Linked DNA regions of Homo sapiens. The protein of the gene in region 5 interacts with the protein of the main gene of each other region in a pairwise test. Each region holds a gene or a part of one and is shown on either strand. Other genes may lie near its edges. The genes, in order: NUDT10, CNNM1, SAXO1, KIAA0408, HSF2BP, SAPCD1 and CTTNBP2NL.

Evidence for each region.
Region 1: the proteins of HSF2BP (region 5) and NUDT10 interact in binary tests that used the Homo sapiens proteins (3 or more experiments, as listed by UniProt).
Region 2: the proteins of HSF2BP (region 5) and CNNM1 interact in binary tests that used the Homo sapiens proteins (3 or more experiments, as listed by UniProt).
Region 3: the proteins of HSF2BP (region 5) and SAXO1 interact in binary tests that used the Homo sapiens proteins (3 or more experiments, as listed by UniProt).
Region 4: the proteins of HSF2BP (region 5) and KIAA0408 interact in binary tests that used the Homo sapiens proteins (3 or more experiments, as listed by UniProt).
Region 6: the proteins of HSF2BP (region 5) and SAPCD1 interact in binary tests that used the Homo sapiens proteins (3 or more experiments, as listed by UniProt).
Region 7: the proteins of HSF2BP (region 5) and CTTNBP2NL interact in binary tests that used the Homo sapiens proteins (3 or more experiments, as listed by UniProt).

Annotation. Positions count from the first base shown.
Region 1 is NC_000023.11:51,331,553-51,335,621, reverse strand, and holds the start of NUDT10 (diphosphoinositol polyphosphate phosphohydrolase 3-alpha), read right to left. Parts: upstream 2,801-4,069; 5' UTR 2,657-2,800; coding exon 2,163-2,656; intron 1-2,162. UniProt on the Homo sapiens protein: Cleaves a beta-phosphate from the diphosphate groups in PP-InsP5 (diphosphoinositol pentakisphosphate), suggesting that it may play a role in signal transduction.
Region 2 is NC_000010.11:99,363,856-99,367,355, forward strand, and holds part of CNNM1 (metal transporter CNNM1), read left to right. Parts: intron 1-561; coding exon 562-661; intron 662-1,099; coding exon 1,100-1,147; intron 1,148-3,500. UniProt on the Homo sapiens protein: Probable metal transporter.
Region 3 is NC_000009.12:18,946,210-18,949,709, forward strand, and holds part of SAXO1 (stabilizer of axonemal microtubules 1), read right to left. Parts: intron 1,499-3,500; exon of another isoform or gene 1,368-1,498; coding exon of another isoform or gene 1,336-1,367; intron 1-1,335. UniProt on the Homo sapiens protein: May play a role in the regulation of cilium length. Stabilizes microtubules at low temperature.
Region 4 is NC_000006.12:127,445,890-127,449,389, forward strand, and holds part of KIAA0408 (uncharacterized protein KIAA0408), read right to left. Parts: intron 1,852-3,500; coding exon 519-1,851; intron 1-518.
Region 5 is NC_000021.9:43,628,489-43,631,988, forward strand, and holds part of HSF2BP (heat shock factor 2-binding protein), read right to left. Parts: intron 1,967-3,500; coding exon 1,834-1,966; intron 1-1,833. UniProt on the Homo sapiens protein: Meiotic recombination factor component of recombination bridges involved in meiotic double-strand break repair.
Region 6 is NC_000006.12:31,761,430-31,765,350, forward strand, and holds SAPCD1 (suppressor APC domain-containing protein 1), read left to right. Parts: upstream 1-1,226; 5' UTR 1,227-1,625; coding exon 1,626-1,739; intron 1,740-1,985; coding exon 1,986-2,126; intron 2,127-2,634; coding exon 2,635-2,730; exon of another isoform or gene 2,731-2,836; coding exon 2,837-2,926; exon of another isoform or gene 2,927-3,006; coding exon 3,007-3,102; 3' UTR 3,103-3,421; downstream 3,422-3,921. Other genes in the region: MSH5 (mutS protein homolog 5), read left to right, coding at 43-186, 389-526, 683-756, 991-1,102.
Region 7 is NC_000001.11:112,448,214-112,451,713, forward strand, and holds part of CTTNBP2NL (CTTNBP2 N-terminal-like protein), read left to right. Parts: intron 1-728; coding exon 729-959; intron 960-3,500. UniProt on the Homo sapiens protein: Regulates lamellipodial actin dynamics in a CTTN-dependent manner. Associates with core striatin-interacting phosphatase and kinase (STRIPAK) complex to form CTTNBP2NL-STRIPAK complexes.

The DNA.
Region 1 (4,069 bases), on a different chromosome or scaffold from region 5:
GTTGCTGTTTCTTTACAAGCTCTTACACATACACACTTCAATTTTTATCAATTTTCTACAGGACTTAAAAATATTTATGGCCACCTTTCACCCCTTTCAGGGTTACTTCTTTCAAAGGTGACCTGATCAACAGAACATAGGTTTCTTAGAAAATATGTTAACCATCCAGAGCAAATTCTGTATCAAGCAACCAAACTTACCTTTACTCCAACATGTCGTCTTCAAATTTTTTTTAGAATAAGAAAAAGTAGGCACTTGTCCATTGGGGGACAGGGACGAGGGGGAAAATCAGTCTTTTTTTTTTTTTTTTTTTTTTGAGACGGTCGCCCAGGCTGGAGTGCAGTGGCACGATCTCGGCTCGCTGCAACCTCCGCCTCCCGGGATCAAGCGATTCTCCTACCTCAGCCTCCCGAGTAGCTGGGATTACAGGCGCACACCACGATGCCCAGCTAGTTTTTGTATTTTTAGTAGAGACGGGGTTTCACCATGCTGGCCAGGCTGATCTTGATCTCCTAACCTCGTTATCTGCCCGCCTCGGCCTTCCAAAGTGCTGGGATTACAGGCGTGAGCCACCGCGCCCGGTCCCCCAGCCCCCACCCATACTCTCTTCAAAAACTAGACATTTCCTCAACTGTCATGGGAGATGAAATCCAGAAGAGGAACCTAGAATTTACATAGCGAAACCCAAAATTTCTTAATAGAAAGTGCGTAACAGTGACCCATAGAACAAGACTCCATCTCAAAAAAAAAAGTTAAGGGACCCCAATACCTGTCAATAATGTTTAAGAGATATGACATAGTCTAGGTTGCTCTAGAAATTAGGAATGATCTTTTCATTCGAATACCCTCTTCACAAAATAGGTTTTCCTTCTACCTAATGTCAGACATGGCTGGGGGAACAGCGGAAGGTCCAGAAGAGAGATTTAGCTATTCTAGATGGGATTCCTGACTTCAAGCAAGTACTGAGGCAAACGTGAGAGCTTTTAATTTGGCACCCAGAAAAGGTGGTACTGTGAGACAAAACAATTACTCTCTATCATTGAGAGATTGTTCAGGAATCCTAATAGTTTGACAATTCTGTACCAGCTGAACATCGCTAGAGCTAACTCTGTTGGGATGTAATCACCACAAAAGATTCCATTCCTGTGGTTACTGGGAGTCAGGGAGGTTAAGCGGAATGTCACTACATTCAAATATGGAATGGAAACCACTTTCTTTCAAAAACAAACTTAAATCCAGAGAACCATGGTTCTTCTATGGTATCCAGTAAGGGGCAATGGGAGTTGGAAGTTGAGTATGGGAAATCAAATTCTGTGAATACAGTTTTTCTGATCAGATGCGTTTGGCTAGCAGATCCCCAGCAGCATCTATTCAGTAAGGTTAATCTACATGGGAAATAGCGATTTAAAGTCAGCAGTGAAAAATTACTTGTGAAAATTTTTTGAAAACCAAATGACCTACATAGAAATAGAAAAAGAAATTTCTGAAAGGGGCAAATGAGATACCACTTCAGAGGCTAGAGCGACTGTCGAGTGCAGAAAGAGCACAAGATGTAGGATTTCCTAATGTTTTTACGAATTCAAAACTGATTTTTTAAACCAACTCCCACCACAGAAGGCCTCCCTGACAACAAGGGCGAACGCTGTGAAGGAGAAAACAACTCAAGGGAAAAAAATACTAAAAGATGCCACACAACCAAGCTGGTCAGACTTTAAAGGCCTCCACTACCAAACAAACCACAAGGCTGGTATCAAAAATGTGCACGCACCCACGAATATGTGTGAAATATAAAAGAACCAAAAACATCACAGGGCGCACAGGCAGACACACACACTCCCCGCCCACCCCTCGCCCCCCACCCCCCCCCCCCCCGCCCAAAAGCAGGGTGAACAGTTACAGCACCTAAAACCCCAAGCGGCATAGGCTTCTCCGAAACATTTTACAGGGTAACCAAGAAGCGATTTTGAAAGCAACTGAAAAACGTGCCAACTGAAAACAGGGCCTGGCAACAGTTTGCAAGCGTGATTCAGAGGGTCTGCCAAGGAAACAAAAGCCTCCCTCCTGCCCATGAGACCGCACATGGTACGAGAGGTGCTCCAGGCGGGATGCATTTTAAGCAAGGCAGACAAACAGAAGTCTGTGCGGGCGCAAGCGGTACATACTAGGGATCGCTATCTGGCGAGGATGGGGCCATGGAGTTTCCATTGGTTGGGGAACCGCCCAGCTTTAGTTTCTCCAGATATTCGGCGTGCACGGGCTTGTGGCACTGGAGAACCTTGATGGCATCTTCGACTTTGAACCACTCTCGCTTCCTCCCAATGCTAACCGAATCTTCCCAATCCTCCAGCAGCTCCGTGACAGTCAGTACATACACGTACGTTCTGTGCTTGGGGTCCTGGTTCTGTTCGAAGACGCCCAGGAGCCGGCCTAACTTCCCCTTGACTCCCGCCTCTTCGTACACCTCTCGGACCGCCGCACCGCCCGGCTCCTCCTCGGGCTCCATGCCCCCGCCCGGCACGATCCAGCGGTCCGGGTACCGGCTGCTACTCACTAACAGGACCTCGTCCTCGCGCTCGCTCCGGAAGCACAGGCACGCCGCCCGCTTCTTGAACCCCTCGGGGTCGTAGGTCCGTGTCTGGTTGGGTTTGCACTTCATCCTCGAGGCAGCCTCCTCTCGCCTCTCGCTGCTGTGTGGGCCGCCGACGCAGCTGCTGCCGCTGCCGGGCAGCAGCCGAGGTGCTGGGAAGAGAAAGGGCCGAGGAGAGGGGCGGGGAGAGAGAGGCGCCTCCGTCTGCCGTCTGCCCCCGAGCCCGGGGAGCGGAGGGAGAGATGAAGCTGGGCGGGGCACGGGCGGAGGCGGGGGCAAGCGAGGCGTGTCAGTCAGCCAGTCCGCCAGTCCGATGGGCGGCCGGCCGAACCCGGGCCCGCCGGAGTGGAGGAGGCGCTGCTGCCCGCGAGCCCGCGACTCTCCACAGAGCCCACCCGCTTCTGCGAGGTGAAGCGCATTCTCGGGCGCGTCCGCGCTCCCGTTCACGTGCGCGTTCGCAGGGGAGGGCGTGGGCTGAGGGGCGAGGAACCGGGGCGAGGGGCCAGGGGCGGGGGTCTCCTGGCTCCCGCAGCGCGCAACGCCTGGGGCCCACTGCGCAGGCGCTTCGCACTCCTGGGGCCAGGAACCTCCTTGGCGCACAGCGAAATTCACCGCATTGTGACTTTGGCCAAGACTGCCTCCATGTGTGCCTTTGACCCAAACTCACTGTGGCACGGCAGGACGTTTCTCCTCTCACTCCCCACTGCGCTGCAGGAAACCCACAGGCAGTTGTTTCACACAAGACAGGGGCAAAGGCAGCGTCGTCATCATCCTCCCCCACTATCAACCATTCTGGCTTACTCATGGGACCTGGGCCCTAGTGTTGTCTGCACAACCCACGGGATTCTTGGCACAGTAGCCGGGCATCTTTGCTGAGTCACATGATGCAGTTTTATTTCTTCAACAGGTTCCCACCTTGCAGAGCATCTTGGCGCAGCCAGTAATTTAACGCTTTTCTTAAACCCCTGTTCACAACCTGCCTGACCTCCCTGCACCTCAGTTTCCTCATGGGTACACTCCTCGCCTCCGTGTTGCAGCCATTTGCACTTCGATGCAGTACACCTTAAAGACCAGAGCACCACCCATCTAGTAGTCCTGCGTTAAAGCCCAGAGACGTTCTCCTATTCTCCACACACTCCACCCTTCTCTATCTTTCTCTTTGATAAGCACCACTTGGTGTTTGGGAAACCATGCACATGGAGATCCCGTCCTATTTCACAATTTTATTTTATTTTATTTTTTGAGATGGAGTCTCACTCTGTCGCTCTGTCGCCCAGGCTGGAGTGCCGTGGCACGATCTTAGCTCACTGCAACCTTCGCCTCCTGGGTTCAAGCGATCCTCCTGCCTCAGCCTCCTGAGTAGCTGGGATTACAGGCGGGTGCCATCACGCCTGGCTAATTTTTGTAGCTTTAGAAGAGACGGGTTTCACCATGTTGGTCAGGCTGCTCTTGAACTCCTAACCTCGCGATCCGCCCACCTCG
Region 2 (3,500 bases), on a different chromosome or scaffold from region 5:
TGCCTCAGTCTCCTGAGTAGCTAGGACTACAGGCATGCACCACCACACCCAGCTAATTTTTGTATGTTTAGTAGAGATGGGGTTTCACCATATTGGCCAGGCTAGTCTCAAACTCCTGACTTCGTGATCCACCCACCTTGGCCTCCCAAAGTGCTGGGATTACAGGTGTGAGCCACCGCACTCGGCCTAGATTTTATCTTGACCTGACTTAGAAATGGTCCAATCTTGGACTAAACCAGTGGGGCAGTTTATGAGGCCCTGGATTAGCTGGTGCTTAGGCCTGCATCATGGAAGGGCCACTACAGTATGCAAGGACAGCTTGGTTATTCATGACTGGATGCTATTTTATGAACAACGAAGCACTGAATTTACTGCAAAGAGCTATTAAAGCTGGTGGTGCTTTCTCACATGTAAATCTGGAGAGAATTAACATTCCTCTGTGATAAGAACATGGGTCTAGTCCACTTGTTATCCAAGCAGAAATGCTTAGGATTCGAGTCAATAGTAGAACTGGAAGTGCTCATACACATTCATAGTACACTTCCTTTTTTTTTTTTCCAGGGTAAAGTGGAGGTGGAGGTTGGTAAGGAAGGCCTTCGCTTTGAAAATGGAGCCTTTACTTACTATGGCGTCCCAGCCATCATGACCACTGCTTGCTCAGGTATTCTAGTTTCCATTTGTTTATTGGGAAAGTAATGGGATATGGTAGAAAAAGCACAGGGGTTCAAGTCTTGACTCCCCCTTTGACTCTTGTTAATCAGCCTGGACAAGCCATTTAACTTCCTTGGCTTTAGTTCCTTCCTCTGCAAAATGGGTGTATGAATCACTTTTCATTCAGTTAGTGCTTAAAAAAAAAGTGACAAAAAATTGAATTGTAAAAAGCAGTAATATTGTCAAGTGTTAGGGATCTAGGGTGGTAGATTTCAGTATGAAAAGACAAGTTTATTTTGCTTTTTATACTTGTTCCCTACCCTTCCATTTAATTGCCTGGTTTTTACAGGGTTAATTGGTGCTGGGGGTGGATAGAAGAGGGAAGATTCCCATAAGAAGTGTGTTTTCTGAGTTGCCTCTGAAACCCACTGCATGCTTCTGTCCTTAGATAATGACGTGCGGAAGGTTGGAAGTCTGGCTGGATCTTCTGTCTTTCGTATGTATCTCTCAAACCCCTTCCTCGTCCTCCCCATCGTAGTCCTGCCTCAGCCCGCTCTGGGGACCTGGACCGAGCACTTTGAGCCTGGGCTGGGGCTAAGACAAATGCTGGCAGCCCCTTTGTAATGTTCTGCCAGGAACACTGCTTCCTGCCAGGTACCCACAGACCATGGGAGCTTAGGTTCTGTGTGTCTGGAATGTTTTCTGCTGCTTCTCTGCTCACATGGTTGGGGGGATGCAGGGGTTGTGAGGGAAGGCACTGCTTATTGCCACCTTCCAGTGAATGCAGGCAGGTGATTTGTGTGCTTGGGCAGAGGCTCAGCCCTTCCTTCTGTGCAATAACAATTCACCCATGGCCTTTACTCAAACACTGTCATATGCTATTATTGTGTCTGTGGGGTTTGTCCTCAGTAAGAAGTGACTGCAAGATTTGGGGATGTAAGTTCCACCTTTGTGCAATACGTTGCTTATCTGCCTCTCTTTCTTGGTTCTCCACCTCTCAGCTAGTGGAGAGGTATCTGCCAGCTGGCTGTGCATGCTGTTGGTGGGGGGCAGGCACAGGGCTGATGGCTGGTTTGCTCTGCCCTTTCTGTGCTGTGCCTTCTTGCTGTTTTCTGTGTAGTTATTGCACTTGTGCTTAAAGGGCATGGCATTTTTTGTGATTAAAAGTGTGATACAGAAAGAATTATTTCTCTAGATTTCTTTCTGATTCACAGTTCTGAATTTTGCATTGCTTTCAGCTGTTAGTGTTTACAGTGACCACTTCAATGCCAAATAGGGTCTTTCCTCTCATCATAAAAAAAGATTTTACATATTGCCTTGTGGTGGGAATTATCAGAGGGTCCCAGAGCTTGATATCATAGTCCCTGGAACATGGCAAGGTAGATACCATTTTAACATGAGTGAAACTAAGGAAATGACTTGCTTCAAATCACCCAGTAAGTTGGTGACCGGCCAAGATGCTTCCTGGTGTCCTGGCTAGTTCACACAGCACAATAAAATACAGATTTCAGATCCATCATATTCTGGAATGCAATTTCTAAGTGGAAATAGTGGAACAATTTACAGTGTAATTGTTACAGTGTAATAGCCCAGCCAGTGGTTGAAATGAAGTACCTGCCCAGTGTGAAGAGTGGCAGAACTTGAGTTGGAGGAGATCTGTAAAATTGAAAAGACCCTGGTACATTATTATACTTAAGACAATGAATCTCAATCAAGGTTGATGAAGGAAGCATTAGTGTTCAGTAGAACTCTGGATGGGTGAGGGACGGGCTACAGGACTTTGGCAAACCTTAGTTCTCTAAAGGAAATCTCCATCATCCATCACATTAGGGACTACTCCTGGGATTCTAATATGTTACCTAGAAATGTCTGTGATCTCTTCCAGAAGACTAAAAGAGGTGGAAATTCTGAGAAAAAAAGACCTACATATGGCTTCCTAGCCCACCCAATTTATATGACCTTCTTTCTTAAAAAAAAAAAAAAAGAAATTGCTGTGGCCGGGCATGGTGGCTCTCACCTGTAATCCCAGCACTTTGGGAGGCCAGGACGGGTGGATCACATGGTCAGGAGATCGAGACCATCCTGGCCAACATGGTGAAACCTTGTCTCTACTAAAAATACAAAAATTAGCCAGGCATGGTAGCACGTGCCTTTGATCCCAGCTACTAGGGAGGCTGAGGCAGGTGAATCACTTGAACTTGGGAGGTGGAGGTTGCAGTGAGCCAAGATCATGCCACCGTACTCCAGCCTGGCTACAGAGCAAGATTCCATCTCAAAAAAAAAATTGTTTTAAGTAGAAGGAAGATGTTATCTGATTTCTTCCTTTCCTTCCTTCCTGTTTCTAGTTCTTTCTTTCAAAAGCTTTCAGTTGCATCAGTGAGATAGAAATAAAGTTGCAACATTGATTTCTCCTTTAAAACTAGTTAACTGAAAAGAAACATAGCACTCTTTCTCTTTCTCTCCCCATGTTACTGAGCATCTCTGTAAATCTTCAGAAGGAAAAAGAAATATTATTAGCCAATGGGGTAAAAAGACATTTTCCATCCTCCCCGAACCCATACTTAGTGTAGTGAAGTGTGAAGTAACTGCAAAGGCCAGCCATACCCCACAGTTATCCCGGGTGAATGCTCAGCCCATGGTCCAGCCACCCAGCATCTTTCACTGGCCAAGAACCTCAACCTATAGGTTGAGGGAGAGCTTAAGTCTAAGCTAAAAGGCAATAAAATCTTGTAGGGTCTTGGCCCAGCCCCGTCCCCCTATGCTTGAAGCTAGCTTAATCAGCCTTTGAGGATGAGGAGTGAGATTATGAGTTTGCTGGAATACTGGCACGATGACCTATGCTTCAAAGT
Region 3 (3,500 bases), on a different chromosome or scaffold from region 5:
AAGTTGCGGTGAGCCGAGATCGTGCCACTGCTCTCCAGCCTGGGCAACAAGAGCAAAACTTCATCTCACCAAAAAAAAAAAAAAAAAAAAAAAAAAGAGGACCAAGTTTGAAGCAACCACGGATGCTGCAAAATGAGGAAAGAAACCTGGAAATGAGAGAGTCAAAGACAGGAAGCCCTAAATTCTGTACATAAACTGGGCCCAAATCTCTGCATAACCTCACATATATGGGGTAGATTCCAAGCTAAAGAACTGAAGTGAGATTTGAGCGGCCACCCAAGACACAGAGTTTGCATTGTAAATCAAATCAGGTTACCTGCCTGCCAAAGATAAAAACACTTTTTAGAGGAATGCAAACAAACATCTAAGGTGTCCACAATGTAGCAACATTCTCACTGTACAAAAATCAACCCAAAATCTGACCCATGCTCAAAAAAGAAAAAAAAAAGATAATTATGGAGACCAACTCCAAGCAGACCAGACATTGGAATTAGCAGATAAGGATTTTAAAGTAGCTTTTTAAACCATGCTCATTAAGGAAAGCAAAGTAAGGCCATAATGAATTAAAGGATAGGAAATTAGGTAAAATAAATAGAAACTATATAAAACAAGAATCAAATGCAAATTCTGAAACTGCAAAATATGTGAAGTAGAACATTCACTGGATGGCCTTAATCACAAAATGGAGATAAGGGAGAAAAACTTGAAGTTGAAACTAGGTTAATAGAAACTATCCAATCTGAAGAACAGAGGACGGGGAGAAAAGATTGGGGAAAAGAAGTGAACAGAGCATCCGTGAAAGAAAAATTACTTGAAGAAATAATGGCCAAAATGTCTACAAATTTACTCAGAAATACAGTATAGACAATTCAAAGGCTCTGAGATTGCCCAAGCAAGTCCAGTGCCGAGAACTCTACCTACATTGTGTTCACACTAATTCTCAGGCCCAGGCTATGGAGGCTAAGTATATGCCCAGTGGTACAGCTCTGAGTAAGAGAGTCAGGTGTCTCTTTGAACAAAAAATATATATATAAAATTCAATGGGCAGTGCAAGACTCAAGCCTGCTACTAACTCTCTTGTTTCTTTCCTGACCTTTGGGGAGGATACTAAATGCCCTTTCTCTCTTAGCTCTTCCCTCCCTTACTCTCCTTGGTTTACCAAGGAGTCTTGCAAATAAGTGATAGAGTCGATGCTACCAATTCCCTGCCGTCTGCCTTTCAGCCACACCCATCAAGTCTGAACTCAATTCTATCTCCTCACTCTGTGCCTCCATTCCACTCTACCCATGGTCCCACTCCCTTTAGGATAAACGTCTAACACCATTGAAGACTCACCTCTTTCTTCTGATGCTGCTCATTTTGCCCATCTTTAGCGAGCTGGTTTAGCTAACAGAATGTCTCAAATTGGGATCCAAGTGTTTTACATGGTGACATGCCTATGGGGAAATGAGGCTGGAAGTGCAAACCTCTTATTCATAAATTGATCTCAGGTCTATCTGAAGTAAAGGCAGATTCTACACCAGAGAATTACCAAGGGCTGCAAGAAAGAGTTTCACACTAAGAATGGCTGGAAATCACAAGCATTCCCCTCATGGCACCTGCTGTAAATCCCCAAGATTTATGGTCAGTAAGAGTTGTGTGCAGTTATAATCATGCCTCACGCTGGGATGATAACCTTTCCAGAAACCAGGTGTTTTTTTGTGTCTGGGCTTAATCACCAAACCCAGCAAAGCCCTGGACCACGTGACTTTTTCATTCAGCAGGTGGGAGCCTCATGTCCAACCTCAGAAACTAAGCAGGGTCACTGTTTAGATAAAGAAGTGGGTGGGATGTTCCAGTAATAAGAGTGCTAAGAGCAGAGGGGTGACGACAATCTGCACAGACACAAGGGTGTGCAGACACTGGGCTGTGCAGACACTGGGCTGACGCATCCCTTCCCCTGTAAGCCTCTAGGGGAACACCCAGATGGTAGCTTCCCTACATTTCCTGACAGTGGCATAATTTTGTTCTCGGTCTATGAACAGTAGTGCCTATCATGGCAGGCACAGGGTTGAGAAATAATGAAATTGTGGTAGAAAAGAGAACACAGATGTCTTCTACTCATTTCCCCTTTACTTCTCTTTTTAGGGTAGGAAATAAAAAGAGATTCATATCTGCTCCTTTTCCTCCCTGTGGACAACCTTGATCCTGCCACTTTTTCTTTTTAAGGCCCTTATGTTCATTAACAGCTTATTTTGGAAATTCTTGCAGAATCTGCTTTCCTCTACTTTAGCCACATTTGATGTACATGGTATTTATTGTTACTCTGACTCCGGCAGGGGCAGAGGGGCCTTCTGGGTGATATGTTTATTGTTTTAAGTGACACAAGGCAAGGATAATTTAGGACAGGTCAGAGGGTAAGTTTTTGTTTAGCGAAGCACCATCAGGAGGAGGGAGGGTACCTGGAGTTGCATCTGGGGGCCTCAGAGCTAGGTGTTGGGGCAGGTCTTCCGCCCCAGACCAAGGGTTTGTCCCCATTCTCCTAAGCTTTGGGCAGCTAACAAAGCAACCTGCAACAACCAACCTTCAAAGCATCCCTGTCTATACTTTCAGGATAGGAAATATATCAGTGTCTGAAGCCAACTAGACATCTCACAAAGTCTTCTTCATTTCCTGCAAATTGGATATAAAGAGATAAAAAGACCCACACCTGGAGACCGAACAAGATATTTGCAAGCCACCCCTCAGTACTACTCTCACCCTTTCCTACCGATTACATGTCCCTTATACATGTGCCTAGGACTCTTACTTGGTGTTGACCAGGGTTTCCTAAAACAAAAGCAATGCTCAGAAATGGTTCACACTTCTTATTATGGTCTTTAGACTCTCAGAGACAAAGAATACTGTTTTCCCAGCAAAATGAAGCCCAAACTTTAGTGTTCATATTGTTTAATAAGTCATAGGTTGAAAAAACAGCAGCATAAACTACAATGTTTTAATACATCAGGACACACAAACACTGCACTTAAACCAAATCATTTAAGATACATGCTTAGAATAAATATAATCATCTGGCCTTAGCAATATAGCAAAACCTTGTCTCTACAAAAAGTTTAAAAATTAGTTGGGCATGGTGGTCCATGCCTGTAGTCCCAGCTACTAGGAGACTGAGGGGCAAGGATCACTTGAGCCCAGAAATTCGAGGCTGCACTGAGCGATGATCACACCATTGCACTCCAGCCATGGCTACAGAAGGAAACCTTGTTTTAAAAAAAAAATTTTTTTTAAGTGGCCTGATTCAAGTCAAGCATCAGACAAGGCCCTCAACTCCCTCTCATTCTCAAGCCCCTGTCCAGTGGTTTCCACTAAGCTCAGGAATCCTTTGGCCTCATTTCTCCCATTGTGGGTGCTCCTGCCCCATTACCCAGACTGGACTTCCCGTGGATCTAGAAGATGGCAGCATTGTGTAGAGAAGAGCACCTCCAACTCACAGTCTCAGATGTTTCCAGTCCTATTCTGGA
Region 4 (3,500 bases), on a different chromosome or scaffold from region 5:
AAGGACTCTATTAGGCACTGTTTTAAATGATGTGTATTTCCCATATTCATATTAATGTGATTAATCCTATGAGAAAGAACATGAGTCAAATGCTGAGAATGACTGAACCAATCATAGTTAATAACTGAAAAATGAAAACGATTTTAAAAATATTTTCCATACACTTAAAAAAGAACCTTTAAAATAATGAAATTCTATAAATTGAGTAATGTCCATTCTGAGTATTTTTTCAAGAAAGAGCAAACATTTGATCTTCTTCAGGTTCCTAAATCCACTTACTGTATTTATGTTATCCCATTTCAGAATTTTTCAAAAGTTACAATGTACTATTCTCAGTGTTAAAAACTACACCTTCAAGGTTCATGTTGAGTTATATTTATTTACAAACAGGGTCAAGAGGCTAAGAAGAGTCCAAAACTTGTGCCCTCATTCTATTTATATGAATTGGACATATAAACATGATTCAGAGCCATTGCTAATATGGATGCTACCAAATTATGTTATATTTGCTTTCTCACCTCTGTTATCTTTTTCGGATCTATTCCTTGCTTCACTTCCTGTCCCCCCCACACAGCTGTCTTTTGCTGAAACTGTTGTTCCATTTGGAGCATTTCTAAATGCTGACTTAATGTGGCACCACCACTGACATCAGAATTACATTTGGTCCAATTATCCTGGAAGCACTTAGAATTTTGCAATGCAGACTCTGTTGCTGTCTCATAGGTTTTCAGCAGCTTTTCCACAACACCATAATTTGACCTGGGATCAGCTGACCTCGGACGGCCAGACAAATTACTCGGTCTCCAGTCATGCTCGTGGAGCATATTTCGATAACTGCGAGGACTTAGGTGTCCCTGCATTTGTCTTACTAGGCCTGTTGTGGATTTCTTGGTGGGATTATCAGGCACATTTTCCATGGGCACAGGCATGTGGGCATTGGTTTTCCAAATACCGGACACATCGTTACTTTGTGATATGCTACCTGTGTGAGTAGATGAGGTATCACAGGGCTTGAGATCCTCCGATGATTTTGAGCAGCTGTGATTTTGCTGTATTGCCTGACAATTTCTATCTGTTCTAAATACAGTTCTGTTAAATTCATCAGTCTTTGCTGCCAGCTTCTCATTCCTTGTAGTCCTTTCAAAGCCACAACTGAAATTTCTAAGTGGGCTACTGCTCTCTGCTACTGAGGAGCTACAGTCATTACTTACATGAAGATCAGGATGAGATTTAGCAGGGTGATCTGGGATCACCATTTCATATTTTGGATTACTGGGGGTAGAGCAGGTTTTCTGAAACCACGAAGTAGAGGGGCTCCTTTTTGCACCTATCCCAATGTCACATGACCACATGCTAAGTCCAACATCTTCATTACTTGGAGGCTTGCTATCTATTTTGACTTCTGGTACCAAAGAGGAAAAGATGATACCATCTTTCGAAGTTTTCCCTTCATTTGGATACAACATAGACATCTCTTGTTGTCTCAAAGGGAAGTGAGGGTTGTAATTCCTTTTACTTCGACCCTCATGGGGCACCCAGCTGTTGTGGTCTAACCTTTCCTTCCATCTTTCATAGGCTTGTTCAGAATCCGAGCTGGGAAAATTTCGAGAGGTGCTTCTTGGAGGAGGAACTGGTGGAGTTTCATTTCTTTTTAAATCGATTGTATCAATTCCACATTTTTTCGTAGAATTGCTCTGGAGCACATTGGTACAGCTCAGATTCTTCCTGTTTTTCTGTTTTTCTTTTTCTAAACTGATTGGAAGAATGCACTGGTCATTGTTGATCATGGGGTCCCCATGAGGTATATTAGTTACATTTGGCATTTCCTGGAGAAAAGAATCTGACTTCATCCTAAACAATGATAAAACATGGTGTATTGGTTATAACTTTATTTAGAATAAGCTCTCAAAAGCAAACATAGCTAAAGCAATGAGTTTCTGCTATAAGAAAAGGATTCACAACTGCCTCATACATCATTTTTACATAAATCTCCCAGTCAAAAACTTCAAGTCCTTTTATGGTGGAATGAAGTCTACCTCTCAGTGTTATATTCAATGCTCTACACACTCTGACTCAAACTCTTTCCAAACTTGTCTCTCATTTTCACTATTACCTGAGACTTCACCTACCCTCAGATTAAACTATGTAGTCTCCTGGGTTTCTGCTACTGGCATTTCTCTCTCTGTAGCTTTTATCTTGCCATTCCCTTACCTTCTCTCTGCCTGCTGAATTCTTATTCATTATGTAATGTGAGCTCAAGTTCTTCTCCTTGAATTTGAAATAACATTTTAAGTAGTCAGATACAAATCTGAATAAAAGTGCAATGAGATATGAGTAATTCCAAATGGAAAGTGTCATTTGGTCTTGAAAAAAAGTAAAAATTTTTTGGATGACTTGAGTAAAAGGCATATAGGATTGAAGTAAAAGGCAAAAGGATTAAATACTATGGCTACTCGAAGGAAAATGAGTACTTTGATATGGATTAATTATAAAGCAGAGTGGGGAGGATAATGAAAAATGAGAGAGAAACATTAGGTTATGTCAAATTGTAATGTCTTTGAATTACAAATATCTTGAACCTTGTTCTAAAGTCCATGGGGTGACAATAAGAACATTATATTAGGTGTGATTTGTAAAAGAAAATTGGCAAGTAAGTCTTTTCTGAGTTATATTAAATAAAAAACTAAATATCGCAATTCAAACTTAATCACACTGATAAATATAAATCATATTTATACCTCTTCAAATTATAAAAGATTATGGGATAGCTTACAATAAAATGTGGATAAATACCTATTAACAGAGAATAGAAAAGCTAAATAGGCAAATAGAGGACAAAGTTATGTTTAAAACATGATTGGCTAAGAAAATCTATTGCAAGTCAGCACAAAAATTCTTTCTGAGCTTCCTAACAACTAATGAAAAATAAGGGAATGTAGGAAGCCTACTGACCCACGAGGAGAGATAAATGTTGATCCTAGAATAATCCATCTTTACTAAACTTGTAGAGAATTCCAATATATTTGTTAATTTGGCTAAAACTTACTGTTATTAAGTATATACTGTTTCCAAATGGAAACAGCATTTTTTGTGGCACGCGTACATGTGTACATATTTACAATATGTTGTTCTGAAAAGTATGTAGGCCTCCATTACATAAACACGAATTGAAGCAAAATAAAGTGCTCTTAAGCATTAAATATTTTAGTAGAACATGATTATATAAGCAAAACGCCACACTGTTAATTCTGACATCGTTTAATGATACGTTTAACTGAATTAGCCCAGTTGTACACTTTCATTGTCCAAATGCTCAGAATGAGAAAGAACTACTTTAGAGGTTACTTACTGATTTTTTATGGAGGGTCTACCTTAATTAGACACGAAAAAGAGTAAAGTATTACTAATAGATTACAAAGAGAATTGGAAGATTTGCTTTAAGAATTAGTGAACAGAGAAATATACAATTACAGTTTCTGGCCTGGCGTGGTGGCTCACGC
Region 5 (3,500 bases):
GCAGAAGAAAAGCTGGAAGCTAGTACAGGTTGCTTCATGAGGTTTAAGGAAAGAAGTTGTCTCCATAACATAAAAACAACGTGCAGCAGCAAGTGCTGATGGAGAAGCTGCAGCAAGTTATCCAGAAGATCTAGCTAAGATCACTGCCGAGGGTGGTTACACTAAACAAGAGATTTTCAATGTAGACAAAGTCGCTTTCTATTGGAAGAAGACGCCATCTAGGACTTTCACCGCTAGAGAAAAGTCAATGCCTGGCTTCAAAGCATCAAAAGACAGGCTGACTCTCTTGTTAGGGGCCAATGGTGCGGGTGACTTTAATTGAAGCCAATGCTCATTTAACCATTCTGAAAATCCTAGAGCCCTTAAGAATTATGCTAAATCTACTCTTGCCTATGCTCTAGAAATAGAAAAACAAAGCCTGGATGACAGCACACCTGTTTCCAGCATGGTTTACTGAATATTTTCAGCCCACTGTTGAGACCTACTGCTCAGAAAAAAAGATTTCTTTCAAAACACTACTGTTCATTGACAATGCACCTGGTCAATCAAGAGCCATGATGGAGAGGTACAAGGAAAGTAATGTTGACTCCATGCCTGCTAATACAATACCTATTCTTCAGCTCATATATCAAAAAGAAATTTCAACTTTCAAGTCCTATTTTTTTTAAGAACTACATTTCATAACGCTACAGCTGCCATAGACAGTGATTCCTCTGATGGATCTGGGTGAAGTAAACTGAAAACCTTCTAAAAAGGATTCACCATTCTAGATGCCATTAAGAATATTCATGATTCAGCCAAGCGCAGTGGCTCATGCCTATAATCCCAGCACTTTGGGAGGCTGAGGTGGGCAGATCACCTGAGGTCAGGAGTTCAAGACCAGCCTGGCCAACATGGAGAAACCCCATCTCTACTAAAAATACAAAATTAGCTGGGCATGGTGGCGCATGCCTGTAATCCCAGCTACTTGGGAGGCTGAGGCAGGAGAATCACTTAAATACAGGATGTGGAGGCTGCAGTGAGCCGAGATCACGCCGTTGCACTCCAGCCTGGGCAACAAGAGAATATTCATGATTCATGGGAGGAGGTCAAAATAACAACATTAACAGGAGTTCGGAAGAAGTTGATTTCAATCCTCATGGATGACTTTGAAGGGTTCATGACTTCAGTGGAGTAAGTAACTACAGACGTGGTGGCAGAAAAAAAGGATAAGTTGCTTCTTATGGAAGAACAAAGAAAGTGGTTTCTTGAGATGGAATCTACTCTTGGTGAAGATGCTAAGACATTGTTGAAATAAGAACAAGAGATTCAGAATATTACATAAACTTAGTTGACAAAGCAGCAGTAAGGTTTGAGAGGGCTGACTCCAATTTTGAAAGATGTTCTACTGTGGAAAAAATGCTATCAAACAGCATCACATGCTACTGAGAAATCTTACATGAAAGGAAGAATTAATCAATGTGGCAAACTTCATTGTTCCTTATTTTAAGAAATTGGCACAGCCACCCCAACCTTCAGTAACTACCACCCTGATCAGTTAGCAGTCATCAATATCACGGCAAGACCCTCTACCAGCAAAAAATTGTAACTTGCTGAAGGCTCAGATGATCATTAGCATTTTTAGCAATAATGAATTTTCTAATTAAAGTTTGTACATTTTTTAGACATAATGCTATTGTACATACAACAGACTACAGTATAGTGTAAACATAATTTGTATATGCACTGGGAAACCAAAAACATTCATGTGACTCATGTATTATTGCAGTATTTGCTTTACTGCAGTGGTCTGGAAGCAAACAGGCAACATCTCTCAGGTGCGCCTGCACTTACTCGTGACAATTCCAGCCAGAGCGAAAACAAACTGACTTTCATCCGAATCCAGCTCCTGGACATCACCGTCTAACGACTTCACAAAACTCTCCATTGTTTGACCAGTGATGCTGAAAAACTTCAAAGCTTTATCCTGAAAGTTTGAAAATCAGAGTGTCATATCTTTTTACAGACACTAGTGTGAAAACATTTTAAAAGTGCAGGATACAGAAGATTCTAGTTTTAATTGTAGAATATTGTAAAATCTATTCCCTCATTAAAAGTTCCCATTAAAAGAACAGAGAAAGCAGCTTGAGGCATGCAGGAGCAACAAAAACTACCCTGAAGATTGGTGGACTCTTCACACGCATAAATATGATATAGGACAAATGTACATGATGATGAAAGTAAATGGGAAGAATTCACTCAAAATGTAATAAAAATATACTAGAAAAACATGCTGCCTATTTGCTCTGGGCATTAAACCAGAGGTGTTCAAACCTTTAGCATAACTTTTTTCAAAAAAAAAAATCTTAATGAAAACATGTAAAAGAGGTAAAGACTGGCTCCTCTGGTAGTTTAAATCTTCATCACTTGGCAAAAAGCATTTCCAAGTTTGAACCTTTGAGTTACTTCCTTTGGGGTGCTAGAGTTCTGAAGAAGAATTTTAAAACCAATGTACATTTTAACCCAGTTAAAAAATTGGAAATATTTGCATTTACAAATGATATAAGAAAACTTCATGGATGATCAAATAATCTAAAACTGGGTTGTGGTGATGGTTAATGCAACTCTAAAAATTTGCTAAAAACCACTAAATTGTACATTTACAATCTTACAGTATGTAAATTAAACCTAATAAAGCTCAACAAACTTTTAAAAACACATTTAGTCTTTCCACCTAAAGTCAAACACAACTGTTATTTCTATTAGCAGTAACTAATTTCTCACTGGTTTCCTGCCACACGTCCCCCTCTTCACCTTCATTTCCAGTCATGATCACGCCATGCTCCCAGAGTCAAACACCGATCTTTTTTGGCTCCTCTTGTCCCCTCCAGGTGCCCACTCTGCCCGGCCATCGCATCTGCCTCAACTGCCACAGCTCTCATACATGTTCCTTCTTTCCCATCTCCCCTGCAGAGGGCCGAGCTCACTCCAGCCAGACCAGCTAGAATGACCACCTCATCAGTCATCCTGTGTAGACGCGATGTGCCACAACTCCACCTCCTAATCCATCCTCACCCACTGTCAGGTGAATCTTTCTAAAATTCTGCTCTTATCCTATCACTTTTATTGAAAAACCCTTAGGGAAAATCCAGTCTTCCCACCTACAGAATGAATCACCAACCTGGTATTCAAGGTCCCAAAGTCACATCCCAACCTACGTTTAAGCTTTACCTCCCCACTACTCTATGACATTAACTCTCCACTGTGTCAACTGACCTACTCACTGTCCTAAAACAAACCCACCCATTTTCTGCCATTTCTACCTATTCATCAAGGCCCATTTCAAATTTATCCCCTTCTGTGAAGTTCCCTGACAAATGCCTGCACGCATGCATACATGTGCGTGTGCACGCTCCCACACACACACATGCTCCCACACACCCACACGCTCCCACACACACGATCCCACATACACAGGCTCACAGGCACACACACTCCCCCCCCACACACGCTCCCCACAC
Region 6 (3,921 bases), on a different chromosome or scaffold from region 5:
GGTCCCCATGGCTCCGAATGCTAACCTCTGCCCTCTTTGCAGGTGGATGGGCTCGCGCTTCTGGCCGCTGTGCTCCGACACTGGCTGGCACGTGGACCCACATGCCCCCACATCTTTGTGGCCACCAACTTTCTGAGCCTTGTTCAGCTACAACTGCTGCCACAAGGGCCCCTGGTGCAGTATTTGGTGAGGAGACCAATCTAGCTCCTCGGGGACCCCCAGGCTGGGCATTTCCCAGAGGTGGGGATTGGCTCCTCTATCAGAACAAGGGCTCCCTCAGCACAGAGACCACATCCCTTCCCTTTTCTCCCTCCCCACAGGATTGGCCAAGGGTTTCAGGACAGGAAGGAGGTGATTGATGATACACTGTCTTTTATTCTCTTTTAAGACCATGGAGACCTGTGAGGATGGCAACGATCTTGTCTTCTTCTATCAGGTTTGCGAAGGTGTTGCGAAGGCCAGCCATGCCTCCCACACAGCTGCCCAGGCTGGGCTTCCTGACAAGCTTGTGGCTCGTGGCAAGGAGGTGATGAGATCCAAATGTGCAACCACCTCCACATCAGAGCTCCCTTTCATTCCTAGTCCTACTGGGCCTGGGTCTAGGTCCACAGGATTTCTGACCCTTATTTCCCCTTCTCTTCCCCACTCCCCTTACTCCTCCCACCTTCTTGCTTGTTCCTAGGTCTCAGACTTGATCCGCAGTGGAAAACCCATCAAGCCTGTCAAGGATTTGCTAAAGAAGAACCAAATGGAAAAGTGCGTATATGGCCCCAGTGTCTTTACCCTCTCTGCATCTTCTCCTGCAACTCTTCTCCCCTTTTCAGGGACTCAGCCTTCCTCCAGCACTTTGCCCTTCAGAAACCCACCATTTCTTTCTGAAATCCCTAAATCTTCAAGATCCCAGGTTTTCTGTGCCACAGCCTCTCCCCTCTGCCCAGGGATTTGGTTGTCCATTCTGCCATAAATCTTGCGATTTTCTCTCTTCTTCAGTTGCCAGACATTAGTGGATAAGTTTATGAAACTGGATTTGGAAGATCCTAACCTGGACTTGAACGTTTTCATGAGCCAGGAAGTGCTGCCTGCTGCCACCAGCATCCTCTGAGAGTCCTTCCAGTGTCCTCCCCAGCCTCCTGAGACTCCGGTGGGCTGCCATGCCCTCTTTGTTTCCTTATCTCCCTCAGACGCAGAGTTTTTAGTTTCTCTAGAAATTTTGTTTCATATTAGGAATAAAGTTTATTTTGAAGAAAGATATTGTTTCTTTAGTCTCAAAACAAGAGACTAGGAAAGATCCAAAACACAGAGCAGGAGTCCACAGGGGAACCTGCCCTGCCTCAGTAAAAATACAGTGTTGTTGCTGTAGGAAGACTCCCGGATTCTACCCCAGGATACTTCATGAGAACGAACCCCTTCAGAGAGGCCCTACAAAACAGATTAGAGGGAAGACAGAGGGGTCCAAGGGAGATGGTCTCTCTTCTCAAGTAGGAACACCCCAGCCTCAGACAGACACAGCAGGAAGGGGCCTGAGAGGCTGACAGAGGCAGGATGGGTGCAAGGCAGGGGTGGAGGGGAGGGACCAGCCCGGGCTGCACCAGTGGGAGTGGCTCCACCCTTCCCACCTCAGAGCCATGGGGAGCCAGGGCTCTGGCGGGGTGCCCTTGGTGCAGGCTCCCTACACAGTCCTGCTGCTGCCGCTGGGGACAAGCCGCCAAGACCCAGGGGCCCAGAGCTTCTTCCTTTGGGTGAGTATCAGCCCAACAAGAGGTCCCAGGGGAACTCTCTCAATAGATCTGCCCTTTATATTTCCATTCAACTTGAGGGCCCACAGTGTTCCCGCCTGCCTCCCCTTGCCCTCCAGGTCCTCAGTGGCCAGTCTGGGTTCACACTCAGTGACCACACAGTGAACCCAACTAGGGGTGGAGAGAAAGGGCCATAACCCAGAGCCCTACTGTGGCGTGAGAGTCAGCCTCTGTGATTGCCTTTCCCAGCTACGCAGGATGCAGGCTCTGGAGAGAGAACAGGATGCCCTGTGGCAGGGTCTGGAGCTGCTACAGCATGGCCAGGCCTGGTTTGAAGACCATCTGAGGGAGGCACAGCGACAGCAGCTGCATCTAGGGGCCCTTGGTGAGGTATGGGGGCTGCCCCTCTGTGTGAATGGGGGGAGGACCAGGGAGGGAGGAACAGGGAATGTGTAGACACAGCCTGAGACCACTCTGGAGAGGGGAGAGTTAATGGTCAGGGATCATGAGTTGGAGGCAGCATCGTAATGACAGGATGCCACCAAGTGTTAAGTTGGTGTTCATTGTTGGGGCTGGAGGAAGCTGGTCTGCATTCCATTCAGAGGGATTTGGATCACTCCATGGAGATGAGGGTGTGGCCTGGATTATTCCAATGGGGCAGGGATGGACAGGGAGGCTCCATGAAGAGTAGTGAAAGGGGGTATTGTGCTATTTGAGGGAGATGGAGGAACTGATGTGCTAAAGAGATGGAGGTGGAGAGTACTGGATTTTCCCACCTGCCTGGGAGGGTACTGGGACGAGGGGATCCAGATGAGAGGGATGGCCTGTGGTGACAGGAATAGAGTGGCAGACGACCTCAGGTTTTCACCATGTTGTCAGCCTCCAACTCCTCCTCTAGAATTTTCTAACAGATTTACACTCAGAGCCTGGTCGCCCCCCGTTAGCCCAGATTCAAAAGGTGAACATCTGTTTGCAGAATCTGATTCATGAGAAGGTGAGTTTATTGTTTTCAGTTTAGACTTTTGGGAAGTTGGACTAGAGAGGGGAGTTGTTGGGGTCAGTGCTGGCTTAACAGAAAACACAGCGAATTTCCCCTCCAGTTCTCCCCAAGTCCACTGAACAAGGCTAGTTCCTGCACCACCCAGGATTCAAAGGAAAGACGAAGGGAGCAGAACTTGTGGCAGCAACAGGTAAACTTCAAGAAGGAGGGCAGGAGCCCCACCCTACAGGGCTGGGAGGAGCCCAGAGGCCCCATCTGTTTCTCCTCCAGGAGTTGTCAAGGCAGCAGAAAGGAGTCACCCAGCCAAAGGAGGAGATGGCTCAGCGGGGCTGCACCAAGGGGCCAAGAGGCCCTACCCGTGTCTAAACCCTCCTCTCACTCCCCTAAGCCTGGTGAAAGAGTCAGAAGCCCCAGGCTCCTTTTTCTGTTTCTTAACTCAACAGCTAAAAAATGGCTCCAGGTAGTGAGTCAATGAAGTTCAGACATGTTGGTGTAAAGTTTCTCCTCTGCTCCTGAAAACTTCATCTTCTTGGTGTCTCATGTCCTCATTCTCCCCTATATGACATGCAAAAACGATCTTTCTTTGAAATCCCTCTGGGAAGAAGCATGTTTATTGAAACTGTCCTTCAGCCTTAAATACAAAAATAAAACTGAAACTGCTCCAGAAAGCAGCTTTCTCCAAAAATGTCTTTGGTTTGTTTCTCATAGGGTTAGGAAAAGTGCATTGTGGGAATATCCATTGCCCTCTATCCCAGTCTTGCAGGGTGTTTTGTTTTGTTTTGTTTCTGAGATAGGGTCTCACTGTCGCTCAGGCTGTAGTGCAGTGGTTCGACCACAACTCACTGCAGCCTCAACCTCCTGGGCTCAAGTGATCCTCCTGCCTCAGCCTCCCAGAGTGCTGGGATTACAGGCGTGAGCCACTGCACCCAGCCCCAGTCTCGAAGTTTCTAAGAAAGGAAAGGGATGTGATGGAGAAAGAAAACCTTCATTGGCTGGGCACGGTGGCTCACGCCTGTAATCCCAGCACTTTGGGAGGCCGAGGCAGGCAGATCACCTGAGGTCAGGAGTTTGAGACCAGCCTGGCCAACATAGTGAAACCCTGTCTCTACTAAAAATACAAAAAATTAGCCGGGCGTGGTGGCGGGCACCTGTGATCCCAGCTACTTGGGAGGCTGAGGCAGGAGA
Region 7 (3,500 bases), on a different chromosome or scaffold from region 5:
ACAAGAAGAGGGGGTGGAATTTGGCAGCAGGTGGAAGAGGTTTTGTCTGCATGTCTGGTTATGAGGTGCCTCCATCCTCCTTGACCCATCAACAACTGAGTAATGGTTCATATGTACAGGTCACAAGTAGTCCTAGATTGTAATGTGATCCTGCTTATATTTTGCACACTTTATATATCTGCTGGCATTTTGTTAGGTCTCTAAATATATAAACTCATAAAATTATCATACTTAACATGTTTTAGAAATGCTAGTACCATAACACGGAAAAAAATAAGATGTACCTGCTGGTAATATAAGCATTCATAAGCAGATATAAGCAGAGTCAGTAAGCACAGAGGTTAAGGACACAGACTTCGGGGCCAGGTTGCCTGGGTTTAAATCCCAATTCAGACAGCTTGCTAGATGAGTAACCAGGAATAGTTTTCTCATCAGCAAAATCGAGATGATAGCACTACCTTACAGGGTTGTAAATTTTAAACAAGTTAATCTGACTATAAATATTTAAAACAATGTCTAATACATAGTGCTTTATAAGTATTTGTTCTTGTTAATATACCATGCCACCTTTCTAATGCTGTTTCTTTAGATGGCTCAATCTGACTTGTAATTAGTAGGTTACATTTATACTAATACCACAACCTTTAATGTATAACCACTGGATAGCAAATCCCCCTTCCTCAGTAGTTTTAAAAAGCAAGATGCTTATTTTTTTTCCTCTTTCCCAGGCCCAACACAGAGATACTTTCATTGAAGAACGCTATGGAAAATATAACATCAGTGATCCTTTAATGGCTCTACAGAGAGATTTTGAAACACTGAAGGAGAAAAATGATGGCGAAAAGCAGCCAGTCTGCACAAATCCACTCTCTATTCTTAAGGTTGTGATGAAGCAGTGCAAGAACATGCAGGAGCGCATGCTGTCCCAGCTGGCTGCTGCTGAGAGCAGGCACCGAAAGGTAGGTTCACCTCAGTTGATGTGTAAATCTTTGTGAAGTCTTTATAAATTATGCCTGATACTTTCTTGTCAGCTGCCAGTTTTTCACAGTAATTCAATTGGGACATCTCACGGGTATCAAAAAGCCCCTTAGTTTATGTAAGAGCCAGGAGATAAAAAAGAAAACACAGCTTATTGCAAATGTTAAGTTTAGAGAACGTGCCAGACACGTTATTTAAGACAGCATTTCTTCTTGATATGTCACTCCAAAACACTTTGTATGTTTTTTCAGTTCTTGATCATTCAAACTTTGGGGTTTGGCCAAGCTTGTAGCTGACGGGAGTGTTCTCTATTTGCTTACTTAAGAGATAAATAAAAAGATTAACAGGTATTTGAGGCATGCTATATCCAAGGGAGAGAAAGAATTTACCTGAGGATAAACACAGAAGCCAATAGATTATTTTCATTTATTCCTATTATTCCTAGTTTTGAGTTTCATTGCATTTTGTTGCTCATGAAACCATAAACAGTCCCTTGGTTTATTTACCTTAAAGGTGTTCTACTCTATTAGTGAGGGGTGTGTGTGTGTGTGTGTGTGTGTGTTTTCCATATTTAACAAGCCCTAAAATAGGAAGGCAAACCTTATGGTTATTTACAGTATTTACTTTAAAGCTGTTCTACCCTATTAGTAAAGAGTGTGTGTGTGTGTTTCCATTTCTAACAAGCCCTAAGAAGGCAAACCTGTGCTTTCCTCTGCTTCATCTTACTGGAATTCTAGTGCTTGTGAATTTATTCACCAACTTGTCATCTTGTCATTTACTCCTCAAATTTGGCCTGTAAAAGATGCTTGGCTACAATCTTCATTTTTAAAACACTGTCAGTTTAGATTTATGCCAACAAGGCAGTTATCAGTGCATTTGGTAGGAAACATTTTCATCTGAAAAATAGGGTTAGCAGCTGCAAAATTTGGTGGACCTTACTTTTATGGTTATCAGCATTAGAGCCATCTTCTTAAATTGCATCTGATACATTTTCTAGGCTCTGGATCTTGCCCGTGATCTTTTCTTTCCCTTCACAGAAGCCAAATGAAAGGCCAGAGTGGAACTTCTTAACCATGGATAGGCCTCAGATGTTCCACAGTCCCCCAGAAAATAGACAGAATGTTCAGAGTTTATGCATTTTTGTAGGAAATGTATTTTTTCCATAGCTTTAATCAGATTCTCCAAGTTACCCAAGACCCAAAAATGTTTAACCTCTGGTTAGAATGAAGTAATCTGAAAACATTTACACTCCAATTTAAAAGGTATCAGTGGGTGGGAGTTAGTTGCCTAAATTGGGTGGAGGGGGAGCTTTTACATAATTCTCTAAAAATCTTCACAACATTCTTGTTTAATAGGCAGGCTTTATTTCCACTTCATCCATGAGGTGACTGAGTTGTGTTGAAGCTAGTTGGGCTAGCTTTCATGCCCATGGAAGGTGTACTAGGGACAGTTTGTGTTTCTAGGTGATTGGAGAGAGGAAGAAGTTAAAAATAATTCAAAATTTCTTAATACTATATTGCAGTGCTAAATGTTTTAAGTGAATATTAAATTTTTGAAACAAAGTACCTATCTATTCTTTTTTTTTTTTTTTTTGAGGTGAAGTCTCACTCTGTCACCCAGGCTGGAGTGCAGTGGTACAATCTTGGCTCACTGCAACCACCACCTCCCAGGTTCAAGTTTAAGTGGTTTATCAAAGTAGAAGACTGACTTTGTTAGAAATCAAACAGTACCTAGAGGCTTATAATTAGGGTGCTCATAGTCTCAGCTTATGCCTGTCACCTTGGCTTAGTTATTAACCATATTCCCTTTGACTGTCAGAAATGTTCTGGTTTGAATAATAAATTACATGGTCATTGTGCTTACAATGAAAAACAGTTTTCTATTCCACCTCTTCTCATTCCCCATCCTCCCCAGTATTCACAGGCAACCAGTTTTTTCTTTTAGCCATTCACTTTGGTAGCTAACCTCCATATTTCTAAATACTGCACTGTTCTCTCTTGCTTTATCAATTTTAGACATTTATATTACTTTCTTTTATATAGGTGCAGATTTAGTTATCTTACACCCCGCCTCCCTTTCCTCTCCTTAACCCTTACCCAGAACAAATTTAATCCTCTTTTCCCACCACCATTCTCTGTCACATCTACTATTCCCAAATCCTGAGCCTGTCACACTATTTCTTGAATGTGACAGGCTCAGGATTTGGGAATAGTAGATGTGACAGAGGCCAGATGCTGATGGTCTGTGTGCAGGAATCAGGGTGAAGGGACAAATAATTCTGAAAATACAGGCTTTGAAGGCCAGACACAGTGACTCATGCCTGTAATCCCAGCACTTTGGGAGGCCAAGACAGGCAGATCACTTGAGGTCAGGAGTTCGAGGCCAGGCCAGCCAACATGGTGAAACCCCATCTCTGCTAAAAATACAAAAATTAGCCAGGCATGGTGGCGTTCCTGTAATCCCAGCTACTCGGGAGGCTGAGGCAGAAGAATAGCTTGAGCCCAGGAGGTGGAGGTTGCAGT